2 separate regions of the Homo sapiens genome follow, and region 1 is linked to region 2. Evidence: fine-mapped expression QTL. A gene starts in region 2. The other region holds a variant in brackets. All regions are shown on one strand. Distances are between the middles of the regions. Region 1 overlaps ACOX3 (acyl-CoA oxidase 3, pristanoyl). Region 2 holds the start of HTRA3 (HtrA serine peptidase 3).

Region 1 (3,008 bases), 130 kb before region 2:
GATGGAGAAACCTCCTTCTGCCTGTCTCTTCTGAGAAGTCAGGGTGATGGGCAGGGAGTGTCTTAAATCTCTGCTTGGCCCTTTAAAACAGGCAGGGCCCCAGACTGTACTAAAGAGGAAAATCTTGATTGATTTTTATACAGTGTCAACTTGAGAAGAAAGTAAAAGGACATTGTTAAAAAGCAAATTCTTGTGATTTCAGGCAAAAAAAAAAAAAAAAAGCAAAACAAGACACATATGCACAGCCCTCCTAACTCCACCTGTCCTGCAGAGTTCTGGGTTCTCACTGGCTTATACTAAAATAATACAAGGAACCTGCTAGTTAATGTTGGAGCTGGCAGGGAGGAGAGCGCCACCCCGACCTGCGGCTGTCAGTTCTCTTGAATGACTACTTTCGCAGGGTGCCTGGGAGGCGCTTGGCATGGACGGTGCCCGTGTAGCAGGTATGGAGGGTCGCTGTTCAGGCCCTTCGCCCTCAGGGCAGCGGGAAGCCCCAGCCATCTGGAGGATGTAATGCGGCTTGGTCTGTTTGAGAAGGATGGCTCTGGCCTCAGGGTGAGAAGCTCTGAAGCGCTGTGCAGGAAATGGGGTGTAGGAAGCACTGTGTTGTTCTGGAGAATCTGCATCCTTTTATTAGACCCGGCTGATCCCTTTCAGGGCTCTGCAGCCACAGGCACTGTTACCCATCTACTGAAGTGTCCTATGTGTGCACGTAAGGCCCGACAGGCATCTCCACCCGGGCATATGGCGGTGGTGAATTGTCACATCCAGTGGGTGGCCTCGGGTGTGAGCAAGGCTCTTCTTCACTGCTCATTCAGTTTCATGAATGAGAGGCTTTGACATTATTTTGGGACATTGCAGAGAAACCCTGCACTTGGTTCCCCCCTAATAAACGTATTTCTAGAGATTGAATCCACACCTCTTACTGGGATAATATTCAAAGGAGCATTAGATCAAACCATTAATGATTAATACATCACACTGATATGGTAAAGCCTCTTGTAAGACTCAGAAATACGGTCTCCTATAGGATCGCCACTAACACAATAACGACCGCCCTTTGACGCTGGTTCAGAGCTGCTCCACCAAGCCAGGTCACTGAGCCCCCAGAGCCTTTCCACCGTGTCTCTCTGCAGGGTGACAGGGATGCAGTGGGATTCGTCCATCTTTGATCCCTGAGCCTTTGAAGGCCTAGGTTGGGCTGGGATGGGAGCCAGCCGGGGTGATGCAGGCGGCCTGCTCTCCGCCCCTTTCCAGAAATGCACATTTCCCATCCAGGGCTGGAGGGTCTGGGCAGGGCACCCAGCAGGGGGCGCAGTGATACCAGTGTTCCCTCCGGGTTTCCCAGCCAGTTTCTGCCTGGATGTCTGTCTTTTCCAAGATCAGCATTATAATTTAGTGATTTTTGTTACCAATGTTGAAATCATTTATCTTGAAAAAAGTGGTTACAATTTGTAGGTTAGATTTTGTCACTTTACAAGAACTCCTGAGTATGTGGGATGACTGCCTACAAATCCAAGGTAAACGTAAATTGTGTGGATTAATTTTAGCCAAATAGCTCTAAAAGCAAAATCATAAAGATCTTCTCAAGTGATAGTTTCAGCCAGACTCTTAAGGTGGGCTGCACCTTAAGGGTCTTTCTTCGTGCGTTTGCCCTGAGCTGAGGCGGTGGCTGGGAGGATGGCTGCCGAACTCAA[C/T]GGCCTGCTCTGGCGGCTTGGCTGGGCTGGGCTTGGGGGGCCCTTCCAGGCCCCAAAGGAGGAAGGAAGCTGCTGCAATAAGAAGCAGGATGTCCAGGGCGCGGGGTGTGTGCTGAGGTCTGGGCGCTTCTGGGATTGGAGTGAGGGTTTCTGTGCCACACTCAGGCCTCCCGTGCCACGTGCATGTCCAGTGACACACACACACAACTCCTGTGCTGTGCACACACACACCTGTGACACACGCACACGTCTCCCGCTGGAGACACTGGATCTGGCTTGTATTTGAGTTGGCCACATGTGACCACCACTGTAATAGCTTTTGTGGAACAGAAGGGATCCCCTGAGAATTCGTGGAAGTTTGCTTTCCTTTGAAACTCACGGGAATGTTTTTGCAAGTATAAATATATTCTGTGTGGTGAGAATGGGGGAATAATTTCCACTCCTTAAAAAGGGCGCTGACTGTGACCGGATCATACTGGAAAAGGCATTCCTTGGCTTTCAAGTAACAGGCTGGAGCACGCTGGGGCCATTGGCACCGAGGCAAGGTTTTTCTCACGAGGTGGGGTGTTCTGAGTGTGCGGCTGTGGCATGGGGGAAGCTGCTACCAAACTGGGCAGCTGGGCCTAGGGCTTTGGAGGAGCTGGCCCCCCCGCTGCCCTTCACTTCCTGCAGGTGGGCAGGGGCCTGGCAAAGCAGCCGAGAGCTCTTCCCTCACCAGGTCACCCAGGTTTCCCTAAGGAGCTCCAGCCCCGTCCCCACCCGGCCCCAGGGCCTTGCTCCTCCTGGTAGTGTGGAAACTGTCGCTGTGTCTTTCCCTCAGGCTGTCCTGGGAGTCAGGATCATGGCCTGGCCCTTGTGCCTCAGAGGATGTCGTCTGCCCCACCTGACTTGTTCATACCATGCCACTTACGTGCCCGTCCCTTAAGTCTGGCAGGCCCCATGCACGGTGGCCCCCTCATGGAGGGGGGTGAGCCCCGGGAGACTGCTGAGAGGCAGCTAGCTCACCCAGGAACCAGGAACGTTGATGGTTGAGGGATCCCACCCTGGGGTCCGCCTCATACCCTTCCCAGGGTGGGGCATAGAATTCCCAGGTGGGCCGAGGGCTGCCTGGTGTCAACAGTGACTGCATGGAGGGCATGAGGCCAGGAGAGAACCTGGTGGACGGGGCACCACAGGCAGGCAGGACCACCTCATGGCAAGGCGGTGATGCTGTTAGAGGGGCAGATGGGGCACCACAGGCAGGTGGGACCACCTCATGGCAAGGTGGCGATGCAATTAGAGGGGCAGATGGAGGTCAGCTTGGGGGGATCC
Region 2 (2,500 bases):
TGCCCTTCACTCAATACCCGGACAGAGCAGGGGTCCAAGGATCAAGGGAATGGGCACGAGACATCAGTTCTGAAGAGACCAGAGCTGGAAACAGTCCTAGATGAGGCCCCTCGGGTGGCCAGGAGACCACCGGGTTTCCCTTTTGACTCTAATTCTGTGACCTTGGGGACAGCGGTTTACCTTTCCGGGCCTCAGTTTCTTCATCTGAAAGACCAGAGGGCTGGTGGGATGATTTCTGAAGGGCCACCCGGTGGTGCCCAGGGAAGGGCGACCTCGAGCTCGGCCCTAACTCCCGGCCTTAGTTTCCCCAAGAGAAAGAAGCTTCACTTCCTCCCTGGCCCCCGAGCGCTTACCCAACGGGCAGGCGCCCTTCTGCAGCTGGCGCACGGGCGTCCCGGAGAGCTGCAGCGCGCGGCGGCTGGCCGCCTGCAGCGCGCACACGTTGGCATAGGTGTGCCCGTCGGTGCCACACACGGCGTGCGACCAGCGGCAGCGGCATAGGCCGCGCACGCACTCCAGGCTCTCGCCGCAAGGCGAGTCCAGAGGGCCGCCACAGGGCTCGCCCTCGCTGGCGGCGCACACCAGGCAGCAGTTGCAGAGGTCGGGCACGTAGCCGCCGGGGCAGCGGGGGCTGGGACACCGCGACACGTCGCAGCGCGCGGGACACGGCGCCGCAGGGGGCTCCCGGGCCAGCGCCAGCGCGGCCAACGCGGCCAGGAGCAGCGCTCGCGCCTGCATGGCGGCAGGGCCGGCGGCGGGTGGCAGCGCGGGAGACCGGGCGGGGGCCGGCGGGGACAACGAGGCCGCTGCGGGGCCGGGCGCCGGGCGCCTACGGATGGGACTGGGGCGGACGCGCGGTCACATGCGCCGGTGGCTCAGGCTGGCGGGCGTCAGGGCGGCAGGGGCATCCCCAGGGCGCAGGGAGCGCAGGGACCAGCTCCCTCCAGCCTGACGGTCCGCGGGCGGCGGGTCCCGCGCCTTTAAAGGCGACCGCCCAGCCCGCCCTCGCTGGAAGGGGCGGCCCGGCCCCTCCGCCAGCCCCGCCCAGGCCCCGACAGGGCCCCGCCTGGCCTTCCGGGCCTGGACCCACCCGGCAGGCCTTGGGACTCTGGTCGGCCTGGTCGAGAAAACCCGAGGCTACAGACACGCAGGGGTCCTTTCTGGTGGGGACCCCCGGGCCCAGCCTATCCCAGAAACGTTGGGGGATGCGTTCTCCCCGCTCTGGAGGGGTCTGTCCGTGTCCAGTCTCCTCTGTGCCTCAGTTTCCTCCTCCAGGAAAGGGGAATTGACAGCATTTCTCAACCTCATAGGGTCGTTGGAAGAACCACAGAGGCCATGGCTGAGCAGTGTTCCCGAGTCCTCGCTGTCCACGGAACCGGAAGCTGTTTCCATTCTCATCATTGCTCCTGCATTTTCTGCAGGGCCCCTTCAGACCCAGGTCCCATCACGAGAGTCAGAATCTGGTGACAGTGCGTCAGCTGATGGGGTGAAGGCTGCGGAGTTGTGAGAGAAGGCAGAACCCCCCTTGGAGGTGAATGTCAAGCCTGAAGAGGAAGGATGGGAAGCGGGAGCTGGCCGTGACCTGGGCAGAGGCTCCCAAGCAAAAGCAGGTCGGGGCAGCAGGAGATAACGCCGCGCGCACAGCCTGGAGCTGCGGTCTTCACACTGTGTGTGTTCCTAGTACCCTGGGCTGCCTGGCGAAGCCTGGGTGTCCTTTTCAGAACGATGTCGTCAAGTAGATTTAAACGCATAAAACAAAGACCATGGGGTCACAAAGGGGAACAATTCTATCAAAACACAGTTATCAAAATACATGAAACAATTCATGACAGCGTGGCCTATGGGCTTCTTTATCAGCATGTTAATGGCAGGTTCTGGTCGGTCTGTCGTCTGATACCAGTGGACACTTCGCAGCAGCCCTGTGCAGAGGGCTGCCACTGGAGACACCTTCGGTGAGGGCGGTAACATGGGGATGTAAACACTGCTTCTGCTGGCCGTGGAGCCACAGGCCCTGCTGGCTGGGGTCAACTGCACCCCCAAAGGAATGAATGCTGGACTTCAGTTGGAGTTGTTGGGGTAAATAAAGACGTTTTTCCATCCAGGTTCACAGATACCCAAGTTAAGAATGGGGAGGGGTACCTCTGGTCCAGAGGAGGGAGGGGGAGCTGGAGGTTAAAGGGCCTCGGGGAATGGGAAGGTGGAGGGGCCTGATCCCTGAGGGCCCTGGGTCCTCAAAGGCCTGGGGAGGCGTTGAGTAGGGAGCGGCCCCATCAGACAAGATGTCTGGGGAGGATGAGGTGGGAGGAGGCGGGGCGCCAAGTGTGAGCCCCCATAGGACCCAGAGAGAGTGAAAGGTTGAAGGGTCCCAGGGGACGGGGAGAGAAGGGACCTGGAGCTTCTCCCCCTAAAAGGCCCTTTGACAAGGGGCAATAGCACCTGCGTTTCTGCCTCTACAAACCTCAAGTGCACTTTACTTTGAAGATGTGGAGAATTTCAGGCC

Evidence for each region. PIP is the estimated chance that this variant, and not a neighbour inherited with it, causes the effect.
Region 1: its variant is fine-mapped to the expression of HTRA3 in whole blood (TOPMed, PIP above 0.99).

The regions. Positions count from the first base shown.
Region 1 is chr4:8,401,649-8,404,656 of GRCh38, reverse strand. All of the region lies in intron 7 of ACOX3 (acyl-CoA oxidase 3, pristanoyl), which reads left to right. Among named protein-coding and RNA genes, the nearest start is that of ACOX3, 38 kb to the left of the region's middle. RefSeq lists a silencer at 1,036-1,233. The variant C/T (reference allele first, on the strand shown) is at 1,698.
Region 2 is chr4:8,268,207-8,270,706 of GRCh38, reverse strand. It overlaps HTRA3 (HtrA serine peptidase 3), which reads right to left and starts at 953. Exons shown (of 9, transcript NM_053044.5): 1 at 354-953. The coding sequence starts at 738. It overlaps LOC105374373 (a long non-coding RNA gene), which reads left to right and starts at 526. Exons shown (of 2, transcript XR_001741572.2): 1 at 526-600; 2 at 1,311-2,101.